Homo sapiens: one gene and its partners. The protein of the gene in region 2 interacts with the protein of the main gene of each other region in a pairwise test. Each region holds a gene or a part of one and is shown on either strand. Other genes may lie near its edges.

Region 1 (4,822 bases), on a different chromosome or scaffold from region 2:
ACGAGGCACGTCAACACTGGTCTCACTCACATGGCAACCACCAGGGAAGCTGTGTGCAGGATGCCCTCTTTAGGTGGGACAAGACATTCTATTCGCCACAGTCCCCATCACTCCCTATCGCCTCCCTGACCCAGAGGCAAAGGGTCAGTTGTCATTTAGCATCTTATACCCAGCTCAGCCCCCGTTGTTTATGTGCCTGCCTGGTACCTGGGGGGATCCGGATTTGAGACTGTGCTCACAGCTCTTCTGGTTCTATGATCCTCTAGGCTTATTCCATGTGGCTAACGGTCATGATTCAAACATTCCATTTTCTCATGTTTGATGAATTCTGCATGTCTGAACTCCACTGTATCTAAACTAGGATGTGATGTCCCCATCATCTAGAAGTTCTACCTTGATCCCAGGTAGCTGAGTCCTGCCACACAGGCCCCTTCCCTGCAAATGAGTCAGGCAGGGCGCCTCCATTGAGAGGGCTGCTGGGAGTGGAGAAAGTGAAGAAAGTGAGACAGGAGGCCCCCGGTTGCATCTCCTCTGCCCCTCCCATCCCCTCCTCCAGTGTGGTCCCGGAACAGCAAGCCCGTGCACACCACCATCCTGAATCCCCACATCCACCTGATGGGCGACGAGTCAGCCTGCATCGCCTACATCCGCATCACGCAGTACCTGGACGCTGGCGGCATCCCACGCACCGCCCAGTCGGAGGAGACCCGTGTCTGGCACCGCCGGGATGGCAAATGGCAGATCGTCCACTTCCACAGATCTGGGGCGCCCTCCGTCCTGCCCCAGTAAGAATCCCTCCTTCCTGCCTCCCAGGGTAATGTAAAGGATGGGAGTGTTGCCCTGGAGGGGGTTACGTCGGGGAAGCTGCTGCCTTCAGCTCTGAAAGGCTGCAGAGTGGGGTGGGGAGACCCCAAGAAGGGGGCCAGGCCTGCAGGTCTGGGGGAAGAGCTGGGCAGGAGCCACCAGGGACCGCATGGACTCCATCTAAAGCGGCAGGGTGGGTGGGTTGCCCAAGCAGGAAACACCATGCCCTGAGAAGCACCCCGTGTGTGTCTTACAGCTGAGGGACCAGGCTGGGGTCGCTGCGTTGCTGTGCCGCAGAGATCCACTCTGTCCGTGGAGTGGAGCTGCTGGTTCTCCCAGGTGGATTTTGCTGGAATTCTCCCATGTCATCACCCCACCACCGTCACTTCTGTACCTGCATCAAGAAAACCTGCTTGTTCACAAAAGTCATCGCAACTTCAGAGCGAACGGCCACATCTCCCCACCTCTCACCCCCACCCTCTCCCCTGCCAGGCTGGGGCTTCCTCAGGCATGGGTGTCCACAGCACTGGCCCCCTCTCCCCAGCCTCAGCTGCTGTCCGCCTGATCTGTCTTGGGCTGTAGGCTAGAATGCCCGGGCTGGTGCCCACCAGGGGCTGGGGAGAAGGAGGGGTGGCATGATGAGGAAGGCAGCATCCGTCCGTCCCTCTCCCAGACCTCTCCTCTTCCAGTGTCCCCGGGGAAGGGCAGATGACACTCCCTTCCCCCTAAGCCAACCGCACTGAAGGAGTGGGGAGAAGAGCATACGCCAGGAGCCTCCTGCCTCAAAGTGCTCCCCTAAGTCTTCTTCCTCCTGTGCTGACCTCAGGGTGGTCTGACCCTTCCCTCGGTGTGGGGGATGTGGCCCTCTCAGGTGCCCCTACTTGCTTTCTGCTTCCTTCTGGTGAAGTCCACCTCCAACATTAACCTGCCCACCCCACCCCCGTCATCCCTGGAGAATTCCAGCTTTGTCGTATCTCAGAGAGGGAATCTAATTGTTTTTGGGGGGCAAAAGAAAGCAACGTTTAGGTATCACTTCTACTTGGACCGCATGCCTTTTTATAGCCAAATTTCTGTGTATTTCGTAAATGGATTTCGCGTTAATGGATATTTATGTAATAACTAGACTTCTCAGATTATTGTGAGAAGGGTCAGGTTGGAAGGGGTGTAGGAAGAGGGGTGAGGGGTAGTTTTTTTCTGTTCTAGTTTTTTTTTTTTTTTTTGTCATCTCTGAGGTGGACCTTGTCACCTGTGGTTATTGGGGCCAAGGTGGACTCAGCTCCGGGGAGAAGGGCCTCTCTGCCATTTCGGTCCCAAGGTGAGCTGACACAGGCGTTCCTTTTGGGACTGTGGAAGCATCAGATGCCAGCACTGACTCAGGAACAGCAAGTCAGGGCAGAGAGGAGGAGGGAGGCTGTCAGGATGGAAATACCTGGACTTTTCTTTGCTTCCCTCGCAAACTGGGGTCTTCTCTACCGAACTTCCCAGGATTTCATCTCACCATATCTGTGTGCCGCCCCCAGCACCCCCCACCCACCTCTGGGGGGCCCGTGAGCGTGTGTCTTCATTGCCTCTCTCCCCTTGGCGTCTGATGACCACAGCAAAGCACTGGGAATTTCTACTCTTCATGCCTCATCCTGCAGCCTCGGGTTCGCATTCTCTCTTTCTTTTCCTCTTTCCCTCTTTCCCTGGGATTGACTCTGAGTGGAATACCTTGGCACATCCACTAGGATCTACTGTCTGCACTGTTTTCTTTGCATGACTTTATACGCAGTAAGTATGTTGAAAACAAACAAAAAGAAGAAAACACTCAACAAAACCAATCTACATGTTTTGGACTAAAAAAAAAAATAGAGGTTGTATTCTCAGTGTCCGACTCGGAATTATGTTGCTGCCTCTCTGTGCTTTTGGCCTCTGTGTGGCCGTGTTTTGCCAGCATGAGATACTGTCCCCTCTGGAGGATTTTAGGGGAGGAAGAGCCACGTCCCCAGGGATTGGAGGAGGCTCCGGTACCCTCGACCCTCCTGGGTGTTGGTTGGAGCAGAACTGGTGAGGATGTTTGATCCGAGATTTTCTGAGCTCTCCCCAATCACCAGCTGTCTGCTGGGTTCTTTTCTCAAGTCCTGCTGCCCAGGCCCAGGTGAGACAGGCAACGCCAGGTCTGCAGGCCAGGAGAGATGCTGCCCAGGCCTCCTGGTTTCCAAGCTGGTCCATCACTGGCCTCTGTCCTTGGCAGAGACCTTGCTGCCCAGGCCCAGGGGCAGGCTCTTGGCCTGCCCCAGGCCCAGAGGGCTTCCCAGTAAGGCCCAGTGATCCCATTATCCCAGGGGCAAAACCACCTGTCCCCTTTTGAGCTGCCAGTTCCCTACAGCCATCCCCAGTCAAGGGTGAGGGTGTGGCCTTCACCAGGGGCTGCTGTAATTACCGAGCAAGGTCTGAGCTCTTCTTCAGCCTCAGTTCCCTCATTGGTTAAAAGGGTTCTTTGTTCCCATCCAGCCGATGAAGGAGCAAACGTCTGGCTATGTGAAGCCTAATTTACCTGCAGGAACTGGCAGGGATAGTCACTGGCTGGACTCCTGTTTACTTCTAGACCTGGTCAGGCTCCATCCCCTCCCCCACCTGCCCCTGATTCCCCTCGTCGGTGCCTGTCAACTGCTTTTCAGCAGTGGACTGCAGGGGAAAGAGCAGTGATTTGGGGTGAGTAGGCTTCAATTCCCAGCTCTGACCAGACTTGCTGTGTGACCTTGGGCAAGTTCCTTTCCCTCTTTGGAGCTTGGTTTCCCTGCCAGAGGAAACTGAGCTGGAGGAGCCTGAGGTCCTGCCTTTCATTGGCTGACACACCTCCTGTCCACTGTGTCACTCTCCAAGTGCCAGAGAAGTGGAGGCAGATCGCTACCCCAGGCTGAGATGGCCCCCACTGTGAAGGCCACGCCTGTGGGTGGGCAGCCACCTGGTGCCACCACAGGGCACCAGGGATGATCCTGATGTGGCAGGCAGGGGAGACTCACAGAAAAATCTGCCCAGAGCCTACCCTCACCAGACAAACTCTGTGCTCCTCCAAAACATCCTTTAGATGCAAAATAATAATAATAATAATAATAAATAAATAAATAAAAATCCAAACCCAAGTCAAAACCTTGGCTCCAGCATGAAAACACGTTTACAGGAAAGTGTTCTCCTGGGTTTGTGCCCACCATGGTGCGAATCCTGACCCAAGGCCTCCTGTCTCCCTTCAAAGGGAGACCCTTTTGGGGGATGAGTTTGCCAGACTCCCCGTGCTGGTTTCTTTGTTACTATTTGTTTGGGGTTTTGTTTTAGTTCTTTTTTTTTTTCTTTTCTTTTTTAAAAATATGTGGCTGTGAACTTGAATGAACACTGCTCAAACTTTCTGCTATTGGGGGGGGCGGGTGGGATGGGAAGAAGGGGCGTTTGTTTTATTCTTGGTGTTTTCAGTGCAATAAATAGCTACAAACTTCTGTGCACTCTGTGTGTCCCTGTCTTGGTCAAGCCCCTGAGCTGGGAGGTTTTTGTTAGTTTCCAGTTCCAGATCTGCCCCATGGCAAAATAAAAGTCCTGGTCTTCATTCTGATTGGACCAACTGTGGTCACATGCTCAAGGCTGAGCCAGTCACTGTGGGATTATGCCTGGACCACATGCCCCACCTGTAGAGCCAGGGATGGGGTCAGCTTTCTCCCAGGCACATGGGGGTACCCTCAACAAGAGCAAAGGGGTGGCTATGGGTTGCCTGAGCAGCCAAGAGCTAAAGCCTCTCTTGGGCCCTGGGGCAAGGTTCTTCTCCTCTGGGCCTCAGTTTCCCTGTACAATGTGGAGGTTATTCCACAAGTCCCCCACCCATTCTCTTCCCTCAGCCCAGCCTCACAGATGAGTGCTCAGGACTCACCATGCCAGAGAGTGCTTTAAAGAATGGGGAAGGGGAGGAAGGGTCTCTTTACCCATAAACATATGTCTGGACCTAGTGCCTGGGACACTTTGGTCCTTGGAGCCCGAGCTGCTGGCTTCT
Region 2 (7,889 bases):
CTCCTAATCCAGAACCACAGATTATTGCAACTTGAGGTCGGTGCTTAGTGTGAGACAGAAGCCATTCTGCAGTGTTCTTATAATCTTCATAGGTGTATCTGGGGGAGAAAAAATATCAAGGTGAATTCTGCTCCCATTCCAAGGGCATCACAGACAAATGACCTTCGGTGCAAAAAGGCTGGCAGGTATACTGAGGCAGCAGGGACGGAGAAGCTGGCACAGAGGGAAAGGCCATACTATGCTCTTCCATCTACTCAGCCACCCTTCTTTCTGAATCAAGCCCACTACAAGTCTGATATGAAACTACCTCCATTCTAGAGCCTGGCAAAAGTTAATAAAGCCTGTTTCTACTAACAGGCCCAACTCCAGTGTTGGATCCACTGAACACTGGCAAGCTGCATACTTATCCTTATGACAAAGGTTTAGAGAGGAAGGGGCCAGAGTGTACGGGGAAGTGCAAGGAAATAATCAAATTAGGGAGGGTAAAAGGGCTTGGCCAGGAGGGAGCCCAAGAAGAGTACTCAAAATGGGATTAAGCCCTTCCTGAGGGTGGTGCCCACCTAGTAAAATCCCCCTTATTACCTTACCTGTTCCCCAAAGACATTCAAAATGTAATTAAGACCAACTACTATGAAGGCAGAGATAAACTCAAATTTCCTTTTGAACCCTCATTCCTCCAGTTCCTTCCTCAGCCAAAGACTTAAGGGCTACATTTCTTTTTTGTTTTAACCAATAAAACACAATGGGACCACCCCTGGTAGAGGTCTACGTGCCATTCTTAGCTCCCTGGATCACAAGGGGGTTAATTCCAGACAAAAAACTAGATAAACTGCTGTACAAAAAAGCAGACCCAGTCCACAGTACTGGTTGTCAAAGGTTAAACCAGGACTGACTACACAAATTCTCAGCAGAAGCTTGTTAGAAAAACAGATTCTGGCACTCCAGCCTGGTGACAGAGTGAGACCCTATAAAAAACACACACACACACACACACAAAACCCCCACAAAAAACAGATTCTGAAGCCCATGTAATTTTGATTTTAAAACCAGGTTTAGGGGCTGGGCGCGGTGGCTCATGCCTGTAACCCCAGCACTTTGGGAGGCCGAGGTGGGCGGATCACGAGGTCAGGAGATCGAGACCATCCTGGCTAACATGTTGAAACCCCGTCTCTACTAAAAATACAAAAAAAAAAAAAAAAAAAAAAAAATTAGCCGGGCGTGGTGGCGGGCCCCTGTAGTCCTAGCTACACGGGAGGCTGAGGCAGTAGAATGGTGTGAACCCGGGAGGCAGAGGTTGCAGTGAGCCAAGATCGCTCCACTGAACTCCAGCCTGGGAGACAGAGCGAGACTCCGACTCCAAAATAAATAAATAAAAATAAAATAAAATAAAACCAGGTTTAGGAATTGCTGGTCTGGAGGGAAGCAGAATTCGACCTAGATTCTAGTCCCAATATTGTCTTTTTAGGCATGTAATTTGTGCTTTAAATTATTTTCTCAGGTATAAACAAGGGATGTAAATTGGCCCCATCTATCTTATAGGCTCAATCTGAAAATGAATTGAATACTTGCTAACAACTTCCAAAGACCTATGGCTCTGTTACACAAAGTATTTGAATCTTTCTCCTGCTTTCCACCTGCCTGTGGTCTTCTTCCTGTCCTTCCCCCTCCCTGCCTCCTCCCAGTTTCCTTTCTCTCCACCGAGGATCTTTGCTCTTCAGAAACCTCAGGGCACTTACCCAGAACCCCTACACTAGCAAGAATCAACCCGTGTTACTTTTCTCCCAGTTCCAAGTCCAGTTCTCTCACATCCATCTGGGAAGACCAAACGTTGCTTTCAGAGGTGGCAATGAGGTGTGACAGAGCTGAACACAACTAACCAAGCTTTCACAGGAAATTTTTTACTTGGAAAGCAGAGCCCGGGAAACCAGACATGATTGCACAATACACCAGGCTACCCTCAGGGAAGCAGTTGGATCAGGTAGGTTGGGGGCTGGTCAACGGAGCCACAGGACAATGGAGAGAAGCAATTAAGCTGGTAAAATGTTAATCAAATGGCATCCCCAAAAGGTGCAAAGGAAATGAATGTGTGAAGCTGCCGCCACATGGCATGTCTAGCCACATCTCACAGCACTTCCTCATTGGCTATCAGTCCCCTCAAGAACACCCTGGCTCCCTGGGCATCCAAAAGCAACTGTGATGCCTAATGCAGGTCACTTGGACTGGGATATCCAGGACCCAAGCCGAGAGAAGAGTTTTCAAAGGCGTGGGGTGGGGGAAGTGAGCACAGGACTGTTGCTCAGTTCGGTGACTGATTTCCGTCTCCACTTAGCAGTCACTTCCCACCGAGTTAATCATACTGCCAGTCTGGAAGGAAGGGAGGAGTGCAACTGGCAAAGGAGGTGAGTAATCTTGCCTCTAAAGGAGGAACTCCGAATTTGAGCACCAAAAGTACCTCGCAGCTTTACCCAGACCCTAGCATGGGAATTTATGAAGAGCGCAGGGGGTGAGGAGACCTCCTCCTGGTATGGAGTGAGGGATATATACATATACTCACTCTCCACTTGTTCCCCTAACACACACACGGAGACACACAACGGCTGCTTTTACGGAGTAGCTTAGACCGCACCGACCTGTCCCCTTCCTGCTCCGGTGGCGCCACCCCAGCTCGATTCCCGCGTGCGTCCCTGCCCGCGCTGGCTGCCGCATGACTCTGCCGCCTTGCTCCCGACACTAGGCTCAGTGCCAGGCCTCTCTGCATCCCCTGGGCGCTCGCTCCCTCCGCCAGCTCCCTCTGGGCCCAGTGTGCCAGGTTCCCGGGTCACAGCACCTGCCCCTCCCCAAGGGTCCTGCGGGCCTGGTGCCCTCCTCACCCGTTCTCCATGGTCTCGCAGACGCCTTCTCGATGAGCCTGCTCCGGTGTGCTCCGATCCGCTCCGATCCGATCGGATCCGCTCCGCTATGCTGAACTGAGCAAGGCTGCCGGGTCTGGTTCGCACAGTTGGCTCACTGGTCTAGGCTCTGGCTTATATCCCTTGCCCTGGAGTCCCCAGCCAATGGCAAGCGAGCACGCGGGCCGGCCCTGTCTCCATGGTGACACACCCTAATTCAATCGGCTGAACCTGGGCTGTAAACCTAATCAGAGTTCTTCCCAGCCCTAAACCTTCTGCCCCGGGGCGGGCGGGGGGAGCCGGAGCGCACCCAGCATTTCATCTCGGTACCCATTCCAGTCCGCAGGGCAGGAGTTCCCAGCAAGAAGGCCTATGCGGAAATAGGGCTAGAAGTAGGGAGGAGAGCCCCCAGCCCTCTCCTTGCAACCTCATTCCAGCTGTGTCAATAGCAAACCGTGAGAGATTCAAAAAGGAAAAATTTCATACCTTAGATTGTACAACCCCAGAATAAAAATGAAGCGAGACTGTGTCTGAGTTGCTCCCTGGACAAGGGAAGCTGGGTCGCCCCCGGCAACAGTGCTAACTTGGAGGATACAGGGTTTAGGAGAGCACATCCAGGCCCAGACCGGGAGAAGAAAAAGTTCTCAGGCAAGAATTCCGGGGTCCTAGATGCCGACAGAAAGGATAAGGATGGATTTGGTGGGTAGGGACACAGATAATCCCTTGATCTGCGCAATATTGATCCAAGCAATTCAGGTAACTAGAGGACTCCTCCCACGAAGAAAATTCTGTTATCGGAATACACGGGTACCAGAATATAACATAAATAGCGTGTCTTTGGTAGAATACAACTATTACTTCTGCCCACATTTACAATTTAATTTTTACATTTAATTTACATTTTTACATTAAATTTACATTTAATTTTTAATTTAAAAAATTAAAAAAAAATTTATATATAAAGGCCAGGCGCGGTGGCTCACGCCGGTAATCCCAGCACTTTGGGAGGCCGAGGTGGGTGGATCACCTGAGGTCAGGTGTCGGAGACCAGCCTGGCCAACAAGGCAAAACCCCATCTGTACTAAAAATACAAAAAATTAGCTGGGCGTGGTGGCAGGCGCCTGTAATCCCAGCTACTTGGGAGGCTGAGGCAGGGAGAATGGCTTGAACCCGGGAGGTGGAGGTTGCAGTGACCTGAGATCACACCATTGCACTCCAGCCTGGGCAACAGAGTGAGTAGCTGGTTCCTGAGAACTTACTAGCACTTTGAAAATAACAATGCACACAAATTGAAAAAAAAATTTCGTTCTTAAATAACCACAAACAGTTACTTACGGGATATGTACATCTGTTTGGCACTACTCAACTTCTCACATGCAGGAATCCAATGCTGCCACCCTCATTTTCTGTTCCATGCTGATTTTTACACAGTACTTTTTTTTTTTACTTAATACTTAATTTTTATCAGAGGGACCTTCTAAAACCATCTTTTGTAAAGATATGTTGTCTTTATATATATATATATTTTTGAGACAGGGTTTCACTCTGTAACCCAGGCTGGAGTACAGTAGCACGATCTTGCCTCACTGCAATCTCTGCTGCCTGGGTTTGAGCCATTCTTTTGCCTCAGCCTCCCGAGTAGCTGGGATTACAGGTGCCTGCCACCATGCCTGGCTAATTTTTGTATTTTTAGTAGAGACGGGGTTTTGCCATATTGGCCAAGCTGGCCTTGAACTCCTGACTTCAACTGATCTGCCCACCTCGGCCTCTCAAAGTGCTGAGAGTATAGGCATGAGCTACCACACCTGGCCAGATATATTGTCATCAAAAGGAATGTAGCACAATCTAATGTTCCAACTGTGAATCACCTCAAGTTAATAGGTCACACAGTGTTTAAGAAATATAAAATATTGCTGTGTTTCCTCTGAAAATTAAAAATATTCCACAATACCCTTGTGAGCTTGTACTTTGGCACAGTTTGGGAACCATGGCCCCAGTCACTCCATGCCACCTCATTCCTGAATCTATGTAGTGTAAATGAATGGGCTCTAATAAAACTACCTGTGTATGAATGCCATCTTCACCCCTTATTTACTCGTGTGATTCTAGGCAAGTAAAATTCTTATTATGCTTCAATTTTTTCATCTGTAAAATAGCAATAATCTTAGTATTTTTGCAAGGATTATACAGAATACCTTTTACATGTTTAGGTAAATGCCTGGATATATAATAAGCACACATTAAATGCTGGCTATTATGATTAATCTCCATTGTCTCTTTCTCTTTTGTTCTTTCTAGACTCACCTAACCATAAATTGAATCAAAATAAAAACTAGAGGTATATCCAGCCTATCAATACCAATGAATCCCACACTGTTCAAAACAGAAGGCACTAGCCATGTGTGGCTATTTAAAAGTAATAAAATTAATTAAGATGAAATATAATAAAAATAATTCAGTTACCTAATCATACTAATTACATTGTAACTTCTCGATAGTCACATGTGGTTAGTGGCTACCATATTGCATAGCATAATTACGTTTTTATGCTAGAGCACAGCACTGTTCTTATCTTTTCTAGTCACTGCCACCTTGTATCCACATAAAAGAAACTGGAACTGTGCTTTATTATTTACTTTTAGGGTAAAAGAGTTCCTGTAGCATTCCTATAGACAGGAACCAGACGATCATCAATCTTAGTGTGATTAGAGTTCATTAATGCCTTATTACCTTTTCTTCTATCTTCTCATCACTTCTATCTTCAGAGGGACTCCTTGTCCAGGAACATACTTAGTAACACACTTACCCTCCACCCGCAAGATCAAGGAAACTAAAAAAAAGTGGCAGGAATAGGTTCTAAGTCACTCAGTATTGCCTTGTGGAACGTATTTTATTCCTGCCCTCTCAACTGAGATCTCTTATTCTCTCTAGATCACAAGCTAAATATGCGGTTTTAAAAATATCTATCCCTGGCCAGGCACAGTGCCTCAGACCTGTAATCCCAGCACTTTGGGAAGCCAAGACAGGAGGATTACTTGAGCCCAGGAGTTTGAGACCAGCCTGAGCAACATGGTGAAGTCTCATCTCTACAAAAAATACAAAAATTAGCCAGGTGTGGTGGCATCTGTGGTCCCAGCTACTAGGGAGGCTGAGGCAGGAGAATCACCTGAGCCCAGGAAGTCAAGGCTGCAGTGAGCTGTGATGGAGCCACTGCACTCCAGTCTGAGTGACAGAGTGAGACCCTATCTCAAAAAATAAAATAAAATATCTACTCCCCTTATCACCATAATCTTTGGTCTTCCATTTTCTCCAATTACTGAAATTAAAACATTTTAGGGTTTTTCCCTGTTTTTTTTTTGTTGTTGTTTGTTTGTTTGTTTTTAGATAGGGTCTCGCTCTGCCACCCAGGCTGGAGTGTAGTGGCTCAATCTCAGCTCACTGCAGCCTCAATCTCCTAGGCTCAAGCGATCCTCTTTCCTCTGCCTCCCAAGTAGCTAGGACTACAGGCACGCACCACCGCATTCGCCTATTTTTTATTTTTATTTTTTTAGAGATGGGGTATCTTCATGTTGCCCAGGCTGGTCTCAAACTCCTGGGCTCAAGTGATCCTCCCACCTCAGCCTCCCAAAGTACTGGGATTATGGGCATGAACCAGCACATCCAGCCCTTCTCTTTCTGTTATAGGGATCACTTTTATTTCTCTTTTCTAAGAGTGAGACTTCCATCTGTGCCTCACTCAGTGGCAGGAAGAACAGAGCAGAGATAAAGGACTGGCCTACCACCCTCTATTCCAAAGACCTTGGCTCCTAGAAAGGGAAGCCAGGAATTCCCTAAAGGAAAGAGCAAAGAACTGAGGCCCAGGAAGAGCAAGGAGCACAAGGGAGCAAAGTCCCAATGTAATTAACGTAAATTAATTCTTTAAAACCAGGTCACACCCTACCCAATCCCACCCAACCCCCGGCAAACTACCCCTCGTCTTAGTTAACTCACTCTGCACATTACCAGAAACTTTCTGTGCCTTTGAAATGCAGTAAGGGATTGTGTTGTTTTCACACAGGTGGTAAATTACCACTTCAGGAAAGAGGAAAAAAGAAATAGGGCATGTGGAATATGTGAAAAAAAAGAAATCAGATTGGGACACTTTGGGTCATAGAAGCCAAGCAGATGTTTTCCACCCCATCCTCTGGCCATGTACACACTGTACTAGTTATCACTTTGTTGGAAATCTAAAGAAAAAAATGCTTTGAAATCTATTCTATTATATAACACAATGAAGTGTGTTCCCCCAAATTCTTATATTGACGCTCTAATCCTCATTGTGACTATATTTGGAGATAAGTCCTTTAAAAAGGTAATTAAGTTTAAATGAGGTCATAATGGTGGGGCCACAATCCAATAAGACTGTTGTTCTCATAAGAAGAAGAGAGGCCAGGCAGGGTGGTGCTCACCTGTAATCCCAGCATTTGGACACCAAAGCAAGAGGATCACTTGAGCCCAGGAGTTAGAGACCAATGACCAGCCTGGGCAACATAGTGAGACCCTGTCTCTACAAAAAATTAAAATATTAGCTAGGCATGGTGGCATGCACCTGTCATCCCAGCTACTTGGGAGACTGAGGTGGCAGGACTGCTTGTGCCCAGGAGTTCAAGGCCGCCACAGACTATGACTGCACCACTGCACTCCTGCCTGGGTGACAGAGTGAGACCCTGTCTCTAAAAGCACGGAAAAAGAAGAGAAAGAGGAAGAGAAAGCAAAAATGTGTGTAGAGAAAAGGCCATTTATGCCACAGTGAGAAGGTGGCCATCTGTAAGCTAAGGAGAGAAGCCTCAGGAGAAAGCAAACCTGCCAATATCTTGATCTTGGGCTTCCAGACTCCAGAGCTGTGAGAAAATAAATGTTTGTCGTTTATGCTATCTATAGTGTTTTTTATGTCCTAGCAAATTAATACACCTCAATAGCCTAACTGTTCTCAATCTAAGTGAGAAGATCCCACCCCATAGG
Region 3 (7,000 bases), on a different chromosome or scaffold from region 2:
TGCGGCTACTCGGGCAGATGGTCTCTGCAACAGGAAGGGAAGCTGTAGCTAGAACATCTGTTAACACAGTCTCAACCCAAAGCCTGCTTTGTTAGTGAGGGTCTTCCCTTCTCTGGTCCCAACCCAATTCTTCCTCTACCCTATCTCCTACTGATGCCCTTCACTCAGGTGACAAATACTGCCTGTCCCCTGCCCGTGCTCCAAGCTTTTCCATGTGTACACCTCTGCATGGGGCAGCATGCATTGTTGAAATAGCCTTTCCCCCTGGGTGGAAAGCCTAGTGCCTCTTGTGCACAGCTATCTGGTCCCTTGAACCAGGTAAGTAGTCTCCTCTATCATTTCATAACTGGTTGCAGCTGTTGTTCTAACCTTCACTGCGCACCAAGATAGCAGGCCACGTACAGAGAGCAGTTAACGGAGTGGCAGAACAGTGCTGGGGTGCAGGTATGGCTCAGCTCTTTGCACTAAGCCTGCCCCTGAGCCAGCTGCCACTCCAATTATGGCTTCGGATAGGTCTGCCTTTGCATTCCTTTATATTAATTTCACAATGTCCAGATCTGCTCTCAGGAGATGTTTTCCATCTCTCTCTGATCAGTTCTCAGCTGCTTCCATGAGCTACATCTCCATTAAACATTTCTCAAAAATGCCTCCTTTTCTCTCTCTGAATAGCCTTTTTTTTTTTTTTTTTTTTTTGAGACAAAGACTTGCACTGTCACCTAGGCCAGAGTGCAGTGGCGCGATCTTGGCTCACTGCAACCTCTGCCTCCAGGGTTCAAACGATTCTCCTGCTTCAGCCTCCCGAGTACCTGGAATTACAGGCGTGTGCCACGACACTCAGCTAATTTTTGTATTTTTAGTACAGACGGGGTTTTACCATGTTGGCCAGGCTGGACTGGAACTCCTGGTCCCAAGTGATCCACCCGCCTCAGCCTCCCAAAGTGCTGTGATTATAGGTGTAAGCCACCGTGTCTGGCCTCTGAACAACTTTTTCAGCAACTAAAAAAGCCACAGGAGTTGAACTGCTAGGATTCTGACTATGCTGTGGTGGCTAGTGCTCCTACTCCTACCTACATTAAAATCTGTTTTTTGTTCTCTTGTAACTAGCCTTTACCTTCCTAACACAGAGGATCTGTCACTGTGGCTCTGGCCCAAACCTGACCTTCACTCTGGAACGAGAACAGAGGTTTCTACCCACACCGTCCCCTCGAAGCCGGGGACAGCCTCACCTTGCTGGCCTCTCGCTGGAGCAGTGCCCTCACCAACTGTCTCACGTCTGGAGGCACTGACTCGGGCAGTGCAGGTAGCTGAGCCTCTTGGTAGCTGCGGCTTTCAAGGTGGGCCTTGCCCTGGCCGTAGAAGGGATTGACAAGCCCGAAGATTTCATAGGCGATGGCTCCCACTGCCCAGGCATCAGCCTTGCTGTAGTCAATCACTGCCCTGGGGCCAGGACGGGCCGTGGACACCTGCTCAGAAGCAGTGGGTGAGACATCACGCTGCCCGCCCATCTAACCTTTTCATGTCCTGCACATCACCTGATCCATGGGCTAATCTGAACTCTGTCCCAAGGAACCCAGAGCTTGAGTGAGCTGTGGCTCAGACCCAGAAGGGGTCTGCTTAGACCACCTGGTTTATGTGACAGGACTTGCATTCTCCTGGAACATGAGGGAACGCCGGAGGAAAGCAAAGTGGCAGGGAAGGAACTTGTGCCAAATTATGGGTCAGAAAAGATGGAGGTGTTGGGTTATCACAAGGCATCGAGTCTCCTGCATTCAGTGGACATGTGGGGGAAGGGCTGCCGATGGCGCATGACACACTCGGGACTCACCTCTGGGGCCATCAGACAGCCGTTTCCGCCCCGATCCACGTACCAGCTGCTGAAGGGCAACTGCAGGCCGATGCTCTCATCAGCCAGGCAGCAGCCAAAATCTGCGATCACCAGCCAGGGGCAGCCGTCTGGGAAGGAGCAAGCAAAGTGACCATTTCTCCTCCCCTCCTTCCCTCTGAGAGGCCCTCCTATGTCCCTACTAAAGCCACCAGCAAGACATAGCTGACAGGGGCTAATGGCTCAGTGTTGGCCCAGGAGGTCAGCAAGGCCTGAGAGCTGATCAGAAGGGCCTGCTGTGCGAACACGGAAATGCCTCCAGTAAGTACAGGCTGCAAAATCCCCAGGCAAAGGACTGTGTGGCTCAATTTAAATCATGTTCTAGTAATTGGAGCTGTCCCCAAGACCAAAGGAGCTAGAGCTTGGTTCAAATGATCTCCAAGGGCCCTTATACCCCAGGAGACTTTGATTTGAATTTGAAACCCCAAATCCAAACCTAAGAACCAGGTGCATTAAGAATCAGTTATTGCCGGGTGTGGTGGCCTGTAATGCCAACATTTTGGGAGGCCGAGGCGGGTAGATCACCTGAGGTCAGGAGTTCAAGACCAGCCTGGCCAACATGGTGAAACCCCTGTCTCTACTAAAAATACAAAAAAACTAGCCAGGCATGGTGGTGTGTGCCTGTATCCCAGCTACTCGGGAGGCTGAGACAGGAGAATTACTTGAACCTGGGAGGTGAAGGAGGCTGAGACAGGAGAATCACTTCAGCCTGAGCAACACAGCGAGACTCTGTCTCAGAAAAAATAAAAAAAGAATTGGTTATTTGTAAAAGGGTCCACACAAAATTCCTTTAAAAAGCCAGTTCCTGGCTGGGCGCAGTGGCTCACGCCTGTAATCCCAGAACTTTGGGAGGCCGAGGCAGGCGGATCACGAAGTCAGGAGTTCCAGATCAGCCTGACCAACATGGTGAAACCCCGTCTCTACTAAAAATACAAAAATCAGCCAGGTGTAGTGGCGTGTGCCTGTAATCCCAGCTACTCAGGAGGCTGAGGCGGGAGAATTGCTTGAACCCGATAGGCAGGGGTTGCAGTGAGCCAAGATCATGCCACTGCACTCCAGCCTGGGCGACAGAGTGAGACTCCGTCTCAAAAAAAAAAAAAAAAAAAAAAGCCAACTCCCAGCTGGGCGTGGTGGCTCATACCTGTAATCCCAACATTTTGGAGGCTGAGGTGGGTGGATCACTTGAGGCCAGGAGTTTGAGACCAGCCTGGCCAACAGTGAAACCCCATCTCCACTAAAAATAATAATCCCAGCGCTTTGGGAGGCCGAAGCAGGTGGATCACGAAGTCAGGAGATAGAGACCATCCTGGCTAACATGGTGAAACCCCGTCTGTACTAAAAATACAAAAAAATTAGCCGGGCGTGGTGGTGGGCGCCTGTAGTCCCAGCTACTCGGGAGGCTGAAGCAGGAGAATGGTGTGAACCTGGGAGGTAGAGCTTGCAGTGAGCCGAGATCATGCCATTGCACTCCAGCCTGGGTGACAGAGCGAGACTCAGTCTCAAAAAAAAAAAAAAAAAAAAATCAAAAATTAGCTAGGCGTGGTGGCACCTGCCTGTAATCCTAGCTACTCAGGAGGCGGAGGCACGAGAATTGCTTGAACCTGGGAAGCAGAGGTTGCAGTGAGCTGAGATGGCGCCACTGCACTCCAGCCTGGGCAACAAAGCAAGATTCTGTCTCAAATAAATAAATAAATAAATAAGTAAATAAATAAAGAAATAATAAAAGCCAGTTCCTCTAGTCAATTATTTTAAATCTTCTAGTTCAAAAATTTATCAGATGTATGAATCTCCTTACAATTTTCCTAGGCAAGTGGCCATTCAGCTTCTACTTGAATGCTTCCAGTGGTAGGCAACTCATTTCCAGAGGCAACTGGGCTTACATTTGGACAGCTTTCATTGTTTGAAAAATTTAATTAATTAATTAATTTATTTTGAGATGGACTCTCACTCTGTCGCCAGGCTGGAATGCAGTGGCACAATCTCGGCTCACTACAACCTCCGCCTCCCGGGTTCAAGCAATTCTCCTGCCTCAGCTTCCCAAGTAGCTGAGATTACAGGCGCCCGCCACCATGCCCAGCTAATTTTTGTATTTTTAGTAGAGATGGGGTTTCACCATGTTGGCCAGGATGGTCTCGATCTCTTGACCTCATGATCTGCCCGCCTCAGCCTCTCAAAGTGCTGGGATTACAGGCGTGAGCCACTACCCCCGGCCGAAAGTTATTTTTTATAATGAGCTAAAGTCTACTTCTCTTTTACTTTATTATTTTTTATTATTTTTTTGAGATAGGATCTCACTCTGCTGCCCAGGCTGGAGTACAGTGGCACATTCATAGCTCATTGCAGACTCTTAACTCCTAGGCTCAAGTGATCCTCCGACCTCAGCCTCCCAAGTAGCTGGGGCTACAGGTGCATGCCACCATGCCTGGCTAACTTTTTTTCCGGCTAATTTAAAACATATTTTTTTTTTGTAGAGAAGGGATCTCACTCTGTTTCCCAGGCTGGTCTCAAACTGCTGGCCTCAAGCAATCCTCAAGCAAGCCTCCCAAAGTGTTGGGATTACAGGTGTCAGCCACTGTGCCGGGCCTCTTTATTTACCTAGGAAAACTTGCAGCACTGAGGTCCTTGTTCTTTAAGTGGGCTAGAGAAAGGAACTTGGGAAGTGCTGTCTCTCTGCAAAGAGAGAAAAAAAAACCCCGTTCTAAGGGAGAGATTGCTAACCTCTTGTGTGCGGAGCTAAATAAAGACATGACTTAGAACACAAAACCAGAGAGGACCTGAAGAGTCAGTCCTAAATGCTCCTGACCCACCCTCTAGTGCCCCTGGAGAGCTCTGATGGTGCAGCAGGTTCCTACCTGGGTCCAGCTCCACAAGGATGTTGTCGGATTTCAGGTCTCTGTGCGCGATGCCCTGTTGAACCAGATGGTCCACGCCTTCCAGCAGCTGCAGCAGCATCATGGCGGCGAGGCGGGGGCTGGGTGTGTTCACACAAAGGTACTGGCGCAGGGTACAGGGATAGCTGGCGGAGAGGGGAGAGGGCCTCTGGCTACCACACATCGACGACTCCCAATACGTTTTTTTTTTTTTTTTTGAGATGGAGTCTCACTCTGTCGCCAAGCTGGAGTGCAGTAGCACGATCTTGGCTCACTGCAACCTCCACCTTCCAGGTTCAAGCAATTCTCCTACCTCAGCCTCCCGAGTAGCTGGGATTATAGGTGCCCGCCACCACACCAGGCTAATTTTTGTATGTTTAGTAGATACAGGGTTTCATCATGTTGGCCAGGCTGGTCTCAAACTCCTGACCTCAAGTGATCTACCCACCTCCGCCTTCCAAAGTGCTGGGATTACAGGCGTCAGCCACCATTCCCGGCCTCCTAATAACCTTAATCACTGTTAGGGTTAGGCCGTTCCTCTTCCCCTTCCAGGAGCACTTTGATTCCCACTTTTCCCCAGCATCCTTTCTGTTCCCTCCCACTCACCATCCTCAAATTAGGAAGTAAGAGTTGGGGCTCCCTATATTCAAAGTAATGGTGCAGATAATTATTTCCTTAAAATAAAATACCCACTATAGCAAAGTTAGGGGATACAGAGGGTGAGGAAGGAGAACGGTTTTTATGTTAAAAACAGATAAGTCCAGCCACAGAAAAGGTTAACAGTCAAATGGACCAAAAGGACTAGGTGACAAGTATGTTCTGGATGAAGATGAGAGTTTGTTTCCATGAAAAATCGTCCTACAGGGAAAATGCTCTCCAGGGCAGATATGTTCCCTTTGCATGGCTTTCTTCTCCGGAAGGGTGATGACCCTGTTCTCCAAAACCCCCTGATCAAGGTGCACATGGAGGGCAGGAACCAGCTCCCCTTGGGAGATGTATCAGCTCCAGGCCCTGCCGCGCTGCTGTCACTTACTTCTTCATAACGAGGAACAGCGTCCGGCCATGGCCCAGGCCTTCAGGGTGGAGGCGTGAGGGCAGCACATCAGGGTAGTCGACCAGGGCCCCTGGCAGCAGCGGCACGGAAGAGGTGAAGGCGCGGAGAACCCGGATGATGTTGGGGTGAGGGGCTAGTTGCTTGGGACCTCTCTTGGATTTTCTAGTCAGCCAAGTGAGACAAACATATGAGGCCAGCATCAGATACAACACCTGGAAAGAATAACCTAAGGCCACACCAACACTGGCACTGACATTCATTATTCACTTACTATCAAATGTTTATCATAGATTTGCTATGTGCCAGGTACTGTACATGGTGTTGGAGAACACATCTGATGACTCCCCTACCCATCCTTCAATCCATTTGTCCATCCGTCTGTCCGTCCGTCCATCCGTACACCCATCCATCCTATCCATCCCATGTGGCAGAACACAGGTGGAGAAACCCTGGTATCAGACTGCCTGGGTTTGCATTCCAGGTCTGCCACTGTAAGTCCTTGGCTGAGTTGCAGTAGCCCCAACCTTATCCACAGTTTTGCTTTCTGCAATTTCAGTTATCTACAGTTTGAGAATAGGTGAGTACAAGAAGATATTTAGAGAGAGGAGAGAGAGAGAGACCACATTCACATAACTTTTATTACAGTATATTGTCATAATTATTCTATTTTATTAGTTATCTTTAATTTTTTACTGTGCCTAATTTATAAATTAAACTTTACCATAGGTATGTGTGTATAGGAAAAAACACAGTATATATAGGGTTTGTTACTATCTGTGGCTTCAGGCATCCACTGGGGGATCTATCTTGGAATGTGTCCCCTCTGTCCTTATCTTCTCTGGGCTCAATCTCCAGGGTGCAAGGGGAATGCAGTGTTAACACGCTGCATAAGGTTGTCAAAGTGTGGAAGGCACCTAGAATCGTGTCTAGCACAGAGGAAGCTCTCAGCTGCTATTAGCTGTACTATTATTCATTCAACCAATACGCACTGTTTGCATGCTGAGTACCAGACATCATGCTGGAATGCTGTGGAACTATGGCACAGAACAAGACAGAGTCCCTGTCCTCATGGATTTGCAGTCTATCAGGGGAGAGAGATATTCATCAATGAGTAATCATGTGAGCTCCCTAAGAGCAAGGACTGTGCCTGAATTTTCTCCATTATTCCAAGTCTAGTACAGTAGTTGGCATAGA
Region 4 (7,039 bases), on a different chromosome or scaffold from region 2:
AGGAAGGAGAAGGGCCTTGAGACTTGCTGTGTTTGAAAAATTACAAGATCAGTGTGGCCAGGAGAAAGTGGAATTATGTGAGATCTCCAGGTTTTAAAGGTGGAGAAAAAAAAGTACTGCAAAAAAGCTGTGGATCCCTGCTTGAGATCAAAAATTTCACTAGATTACTTAGGATAGACAAATATGCCTGCATAAATCTGAAACAAGTTAGCGGGTTGGTTTGAGTCTTGTTCTCTCCGGTTTACCACCTGTCTAACTACGGGTAAGTCACTTCACCTTTTCAAGCTTCAAGATACTCATCTCTGAAATGAGATGAATAATCATTCTTATCTTCCCCATTTTTCAAGATTGTCGTAAGAATCAAATGAGATGCAGCCTGTGGATGTCATTTCATAAACTTCGACGCACTAAAACATCATTTCTTTTCATTACCAAATGCCTCTCAACCAAAATAAGCCATTCCTCACAAAACGGCTCCACATAGAACATTAACATTAGCGAAAGGCCTAAGAGCAAGCGATGACATATATAAAATGACAAAACACTGCACGCCTGAGTCAAGCTAGGAGCTCCTGCCTAACTGAAACTCACAGGCAGTTTTCTCCTTGATTCCCAGCCGAACTCTGAAACCTGGGGAAACCCAACCTCCAGGTCCCAAGGCTCCAGCCCAGAGGCGACACTGTTTTCTAGCACTTTCCTAACTCCAAGAGAAAAGCATGTAAACATTACATCCCAGAACCGAAGGCCTCTATACCCTACCAGTGGCTTCTTCACCACCCTGTGAGGGCAGCTATAAACAAGACTAATGGAGAAGGGGGAGTGCATTAAACCCATGGCTTGGCCAATTTCTCAGTAATAGGAGATGCCCTCTGGGCTACCAGGAGGTGAGGCAACAGGCGGACGTCCCACAGGCTCTGGTCTGCTAGCTAAACTCCCCCAGCTCTGTTTAGATAGCTCTTTCACCTCTAACCAACTTTCCACATCCACTGCTTCATTTTTCTCCTCTAGAGATTGAAGGCCTTGTTTCTGCAGTAACCGTCCCCCTCCAGCCCACCCATCACCACCACCACCAACAGCACACCTTGCCAAATTCAGCAAACCATGTGCACAGTTAACTGCAGATTTTTTTTTTTTTTAACCACTCAGTGAGAGAATTTCAGGGAACTAAATGTACACAGATGAGGTAAGTCATAGGTACAGAGTCTCAGGTTACTCAATTAATTGAGCACAGGTTCAAAGCATGCAAGTCCTTCCAAACACTTCTGGTTTCACAGGACACTCACCCCACTCTGCTCTGTCCCCACTCCCTGCCATCTCGGGCTCCTTGGCTGAGATCCTTGGGCAGATCAGCACTGGCCTTTCTCCCCAGGTCCCTGGGGCAGAGACAGGTGGAACTGTCTCGCATGTGTCTCCTGGGCTAATAGAGAAATGGGGTCCTTAACTATCTGGGACCTTAACCCTATAGCTTGCTATCTCACAGGTACCTATTAAAGTCTTCCCAGCCACAGTCCCCAAGCTAGCCTTTCTCCACAGGTGGCTCTTAACCCAGGGCCCTCCAGGCTCAACCAGATCATACCAGCCTTTCCAATGCCTCTGGGCACAGAGTTAAAAATTTCACCAAGGCCAGGCACGGTGGCTCACACCTGTAATCCCAGCATTTTGGGAGGCCAAGGTGGGTGAATCACGAGGTCAGGAGTTCGAGACCAGCCTGGCCAATATGGTGAAACCTCATCTCTACTAAAAATACAAAACAATTAGCCGGGCGTGGTGGTGCGCACCTGTAATCCCAGCTACTCAGGAGGCTGAGGCACAAGAATCGCCTGAACCTGGGAGGCAGAGGTTGCAGTGAGCCGAGATAGAGCCACTGCACTCCAGCTGGGTGACGGAGCGAGACTCTGTCTCAAAAAAAAAAAAAAAAAAAATTCATCATGACACTACACCTCAGCTCACCAGCCCCCCAAAGTCAGAAGGAAATCATCTCAGTATCCCTAAAATATTAAAATCCCAACTGAGGGCCCACCCATTGATTCACCCCCACATTTATTTCATGTAAGATTCACCCTAGTCATCTTCCCCCAGGGTTTCTACTCAACAGGCTAGTCTCTCTTCTAAATAATAGAGGTCACATCAGTTACCTTCTTCATTTAAAAAACCCCCAGAAAGGGGGGGAGATAATAAACAACATATTGGTCTCTACACGGCACAAATGCATTTGATATAGGTACATCTTTTTATTGTCCTTGTCAGCCACTCAGATTTGGGATATAATCACATCAGCCTGCCTTTCTGAGAATTCGTAGCTGTGTTTTGAATCTAATTCAGGGGACTGGAGATAAATCATTGTGAAGGGTCCTGATTTTCCAAGCTAAGAGCCTGCAGCAGCAGCAACAGCAATGGCAAGCTAAGTTAAAAGGTCAGCCAAGAAGTGGGGGAGGTTTATATGCAAAGATGAAGACCACACGCCTGTAGTGTTTGTCTTCATGCCAATCTGGAGGGTTGAAGGGAAGAAAGACAGACCCAGCTACATCAAGGTAAGTCAACAAAAGCACAGGAAGCAAAGGGCAGGGCAGGGAGATGGCCCCACTGTTAAGGCACTGTTTACATCTTTCATTGCTAAACAGAACGTGCAGGGTCTGCGCTCCACCTTAGCAAAGCCCGATACAAGTGCAGTGTTTGCGCAAGGCCAGATGAGAAGTGAAGCCACAGAGATCTGGTTCACCCTATGAATAGCCAGCCTTCATTGACTAAGTGACTGACAGAAGGAGGCAACTGTGCAGAGGCATGCCCTAGAGCCAACCACCGGACCCACTTGGCCCTCCACGGTCCCCCTGGTGAGTTCCTACCTAGGAAAGAAGGACCACTGTCTCCTGACACTCAACTTGGCAGTCAGCAGCCACCAATACCTAGGGTCTAGACCCAAGCCCTCCACTCTTGCTTTTATTGCCCTGTTTGCCCTGCCTACACGAGCAGGTCTTTGCAGGAACTTCTCTCTTGGGTGAAGCAGAGGTTGCCTACAGGTGGGAAGAAGAGGCCTTGTCAAAGCTTGTGCTGTCTACACAGTAGCCAAGAGCCACATGTGGCTATTTCAACTTTAAATTCGTTAAAATTAAATGAAAGACACTTCAAGTCTTCAGTCACACTTGCCACATTTCACCTGCTCAATGGCCAGATCTGACTAGTGAACATGGTGAACAGCACAGATAGAAAACATCACTATCACAGAAAGATCTATTGAACAGTGCCACATCGGAGGGTCCAGGACGCGGCCAGGAAGATAGGATCTTCCAGCTCTTGGCTAGTAGCAGTGCTATGGGCATGGATGTTACCATTATAATAAACAGTTACCCAGTGGATAACAGAACTTTGTAATTATTTTTTAACACACTAGTGTACTTGTGATCGTTACGCAGTCCTATTTTTACGGAACCCACCATAAAATGCACAAAGCATTGGTCATGTTACAGTTAAAAAAAACTGAGCATCTCACAATAACACAGGAGGAAACTCAAATCTTGATCTTGCTCAGCAGCCCACCCTGCCTTTTCTGGATTTTAGCTTCATCAGCCACTTCAGCGCTTGAAGGCCGCCCATGCCACTTCTTCGAAGGCCCAGGGTTCACAGGTCGATAAGCCAATAAATTAGGTCGAAATTAACTGTGGCTCATTTTAAATTGAGGGAAATTGATTTTTGCATGTACGTGGCTAGACTGACTATACCATCTGCCAACAGTGTCTGGCATACCTAGAAAATGCATAGGAAAGTCCCATGCTCATCAACAGAGAATGCCTCACCCCCACAGCCCAGACCACCTCTGGAGAAATACTAATCCCTGAATATTCAAACCAAAAATGCAGTGAGCTCTCTTTTACTTTCCATCACATTTATTTAAATCCAAATAAATGGAGGAAAGGTCAATGTAATGCCCCCAGGTTTTAATACATTTTTATTCATTTAAAACATTTAATACATTTTTATCAACTCTCAATTATCTGCATCTGAATTATTGTCGCAAATTCTAAACTCCAAACTGCCTTTCCCTGAATACATTTAGGCCAGCCATTTCCCTTATCAATAGATCAAAGAATGCAAACTCATTTTAATATTCACCTGAGCAAAACTTAATTAGGAAGGTAAACGAATGCTTTAAAAAAAAGACTACATAAATACATAGCAAAAGCAAATCGATTATTTTTTGGATTACCTGCTCTCCAGATTATGATAAGACTGCCCCCTGTGTCCCTCCATTACAGTGGGTGGAACAAAGCTGGCTCCAACTATCTCTGCCCTGGGATTCAACAATGACACTATGAAGATGGCTGTCATCTCTAAGGAGGAACAGACCAAAATCTGACAATGAAATGTTCCTACAACATCCACCTTTTGCCTTGGGATGTTCGTTGCTATAAGGATCTGCCTCGTGGATCCCAAGTCTCAAAGCAATTTATTAAGCATACCATTAACTTCATTTTACAGAACATAGAGAAAACATTCTCAGACAGAACACAAATTAAAACCAAGATCCATGATCACTGTATTCTGATGCTCTTACAAGCCTGGACTCCACATCTCAAGGGAACTGTGCTCCAGCATCTCTCCAAGTTACAAGGGGGCTACATCAGGCTGCTCTCCTGCTCTGCAAGAACGCTTGAAGTGAAAGGAGAATGAGGTTTTTCTCACCTGGCCTGGAAAAAAAGTAATCATCTATTTTATATTATGATACTTCAGGTAATTTTCTAACAATTCACCATCATAATATCACAAATATAATTTAGAGCTAAAGTTAATCTCATTATTCAGGATACCAGGGACTACAGGTAACAGGAAGCCATTTATAATTCAAGTTTCCAATTTTATGTACATACATGTTGTACATGCATAGACTGTTTCTGGAAAGATATACAAAAATATTGATAACAACGGATGCCACCCGGAAAGGAGCTCTGGGTGAACAGGGGGCATGAGAGGGAAGGAAATTTGTTACCACATACGCTTTTGTACAAATTTTGTTTTGTAAACGTGCATTACCTAATCAGACAGCTTTTTATTTCATCCCTCCAAATTCCGCCTCCTTACTCTTCTCACCAACCCCTTTCCTCCATTCCTTCCCCCTCGCAAAGCCTCCACCTTCTGTGCCTCTAACCATGCAAGCTATTTATGAACTAAAAGCGGCCAGAGACTGGGCACAGAGCTCCCTAAGAAAAGACGCCAAGTGGAACCAGGAAGAGCTTTTCAAGGTCACGTCCCTTATTGAGCCAACCCAAGGCCCCGAGCAACTCTTCAGCTACATAAAAGCCAACCTGAAGCAGCACATTCTTTGCCTTCTCATCTTATTCTGGAAGCACACAGGTCAAACATCCTAACTTCAGAATCAACCAGCCAATTCTTTCCCAAGCAAGTGTATCATGGAAGAATCTACTCAAAAGAGATCTAAAGCTGAACGGTATTCCACCCCCAAAGGAGGCCTTTTGTCCCAGGGCCTTGTGCTGTAATAGACACTTTATTTTCAGTCTCAAATCAGGACACTGAATACTCCCTGGCTTCTAAAATGTAGGAATTATGAAGAGAGAGCTTGTTGGAAGGAAAATAAACCTGTAAATCCTGTTAGGCTTTGTGCTTTATTCCAAAGGATTTTTCCCCAAAACAATACCATTAGCATAAACCAGAATGATAGCCCTAAAAGGGAGGATTCTGTAAAATAGAATCCAAGCTCTTCATTGAAAATAACTCCCATATAGCACAGGCAAATCAGGGCTCCACTATCTGTAGGCCATGCCGCTTGCATCCTCACTACCGAATGAGCCATCTCATTTTCACTATCCATGTGTGGGTTCACTGTATTCCTCCTTACAAATACATTTTATATAATGTGAATGTGCTTCCTACCCTCTGGGCCTCTCTTCTTCCAGGTGTGTGGCTGGTCCACAAATACTCATTAAGGGCCTCCCAAGTGCCAGGGAAACACAAGAGAACTTGATCCATGCCCTCAAGGAGCAAACAGGAAGATGAGACAGTTGAGCAATTCTAACACAAGGCAGTAAGTGCTGCCTCCAAGCTCAGAAGAAACTCTTCCCACCATAGCCTGAGAATACCAAGAGGTATTCCTTGGATGTTAAAGAATGGAATAAGAGCTTCCCAGGCAAGGACAAGAGTTGGGGAAGATCATTTCAGGCAGAGGAAAAAGCAGGTATGATGGCGCAGACAGACAGAGCTTATGAGAAATCAGGAGGAAATTCAGTGTGGCATGAATTAGGGAATCCCTCTTCTTGGACCTGGCCTTTAAGAAGGGGCTCAACTTCTAAACTTTGCCTTTTTTTTTTTTTTTTTTAGATGGAGTCTCACTCTGTCCCCCAGGCTGGAGTGCAATGGCGCGATCTCGGCTCACTGCAACCTCCGCCTCCGGGGTTCAAGCGATTCTCCTGCCTCAGCCTCTTGAGTAGCCAGGACTACAGGCATCTGCCACCACGCCCAGTGAATTTTTGTAGTTTTAGTAGAGACGGGGTTTCCCCATGTGGACCAGGCTGGTTTCGAACTCCTGACCTCAAGTGATCCACCCGCCTCGGCCTCCCACAGTGCTGGGATTACAGGCGTGAGCCTTGAACATGGGCAGAAAAGTCCTGATATCTGCCAGCAAATTATTTTCACCCCTACAATCACATTTCAGTATCATAAATGTGCCTTTAAGTAATCATGGCAGAAGCCGGTCTCCCCACCTTAGAGAAACTGAGGAGGAAAATGGTCAAAATAACCAAGCCTAGTTTACCCAAGACATTAGCGAAGCAGAGGAAAAAGGACCGACATTGACTCCAGCACAGGGCTCTTTCTCAGATGCAAGTATTCCCCTAGAAAGCCTTCCCTTCTCTTCTCCCTGAAGGTGGTGGCCTTAACATCGCCTCTAGGCCTGCTTCCTTCAGGCAGCTTCTGCTTCCAGCCCTAACCTGTGCTGCCAGTGTCCTCTTAACCTCACTCAAAGGTCAGAGGGCAAGAAGCTGGACAGTGTCTGAGCCCACCACCCCTTATCTCTCCATCTCCCATGCGCTGC

What was found.
Region 1: the proteins of PNP (region 2) and CAMK2A interact in binary tests that used the Homo sapiens proteins (3 or more experiments, as listed by UniProt).
Region 3: the proteins of PNP (region 2) and PINK1 interact in binary tests that used the Homo sapiens proteins (3 or more experiments, as listed by UniProt).
Region 4: the proteins of PNP (region 2) and SORL1 interact in binary tests that used the Homo sapiens proteins (3 or more experiments, as listed by UniProt).

The regions. Positions count from the first base shown.
Region 1 is NC_000005.10:150,218,952-150,223,773, reverse strand, and holds the end of CAMK2A (calcium/calmodulin-dependent protein kinase type II subunit alpha), read left to right. Parts: intron 1-556; coding exon 557-785; coding exon of another isoform or gene 786-789; exon of another isoform or gene 790-814; intron 815-1,060; coding exon 1,061-1,064; 3' UTR 1,065-4,283; downstream 4,284-4,822. UniProt on the Homo sapiens protein: Calcium/calmodulin-dependent protein kinase that functions autonomously after Ca(2+)/calmodulin-binding and autophosphorylation, and is involved in various processes, such as synaptic plasticity, neurotransmitter release and long-term potentiation.
Region 2 is NC_000014.9:20,464,517-20,472,405, reverse strand, and holds the start of PNP (purine nucleoside phosphorylase), read right to left. Parts: upstream 3,001-7,889; 5' UTR 2,882-3,000; coding exon 2,871-2,881; intron 99-2,870; coding exon 1-98. UniProt on the Homo sapiens protein: Catalyzes the phosphorolytic breakdown of the N-glycosidic bond in the beta-(deoxy)ribonucleoside molecules, with the formation of the corresponding free purine bases and pentose-1-phosphate.
Region 3 is NC_000001.11:20,643,458-20,650,457, reverse strand, and holds part of PINK1 (serine/threonine-protein kinase PINK1, mitochondrial precursor), read right to left. Parts: intron 5,969-7,000; coding exon 5,786-5,968; intron 4,899-5,785; coding exon 4,735-4,898; intron 2,144-4,734; exon of another isoform or gene 1,954-2,143; coding exon 1,826-1,953; exon of another isoform or gene 1,464-1,825; coding exon 1,227-1,463; exon of another isoform or gene 25-1,226; coding exon 1-24. UniProt on the Homo sapiens protein: Serine/threonine-protein kinase which acts as a sensor of mitochondrial damage and protects against mitochondrial dysfunction during cellular stress.
Region 4 is NC_000011.10:121,455,278-121,462,316, reverse strand, and holds part of SORL1 (sortilin-related receptor preproprotein), read right to left. Parts: intron 1-7,039. UniProt on the Homo sapiens protein: Sorting receptor that directs several proteins to their correct location within the cell. Along with AP-1 complex, involved Golgi apparatus - endosome sorting.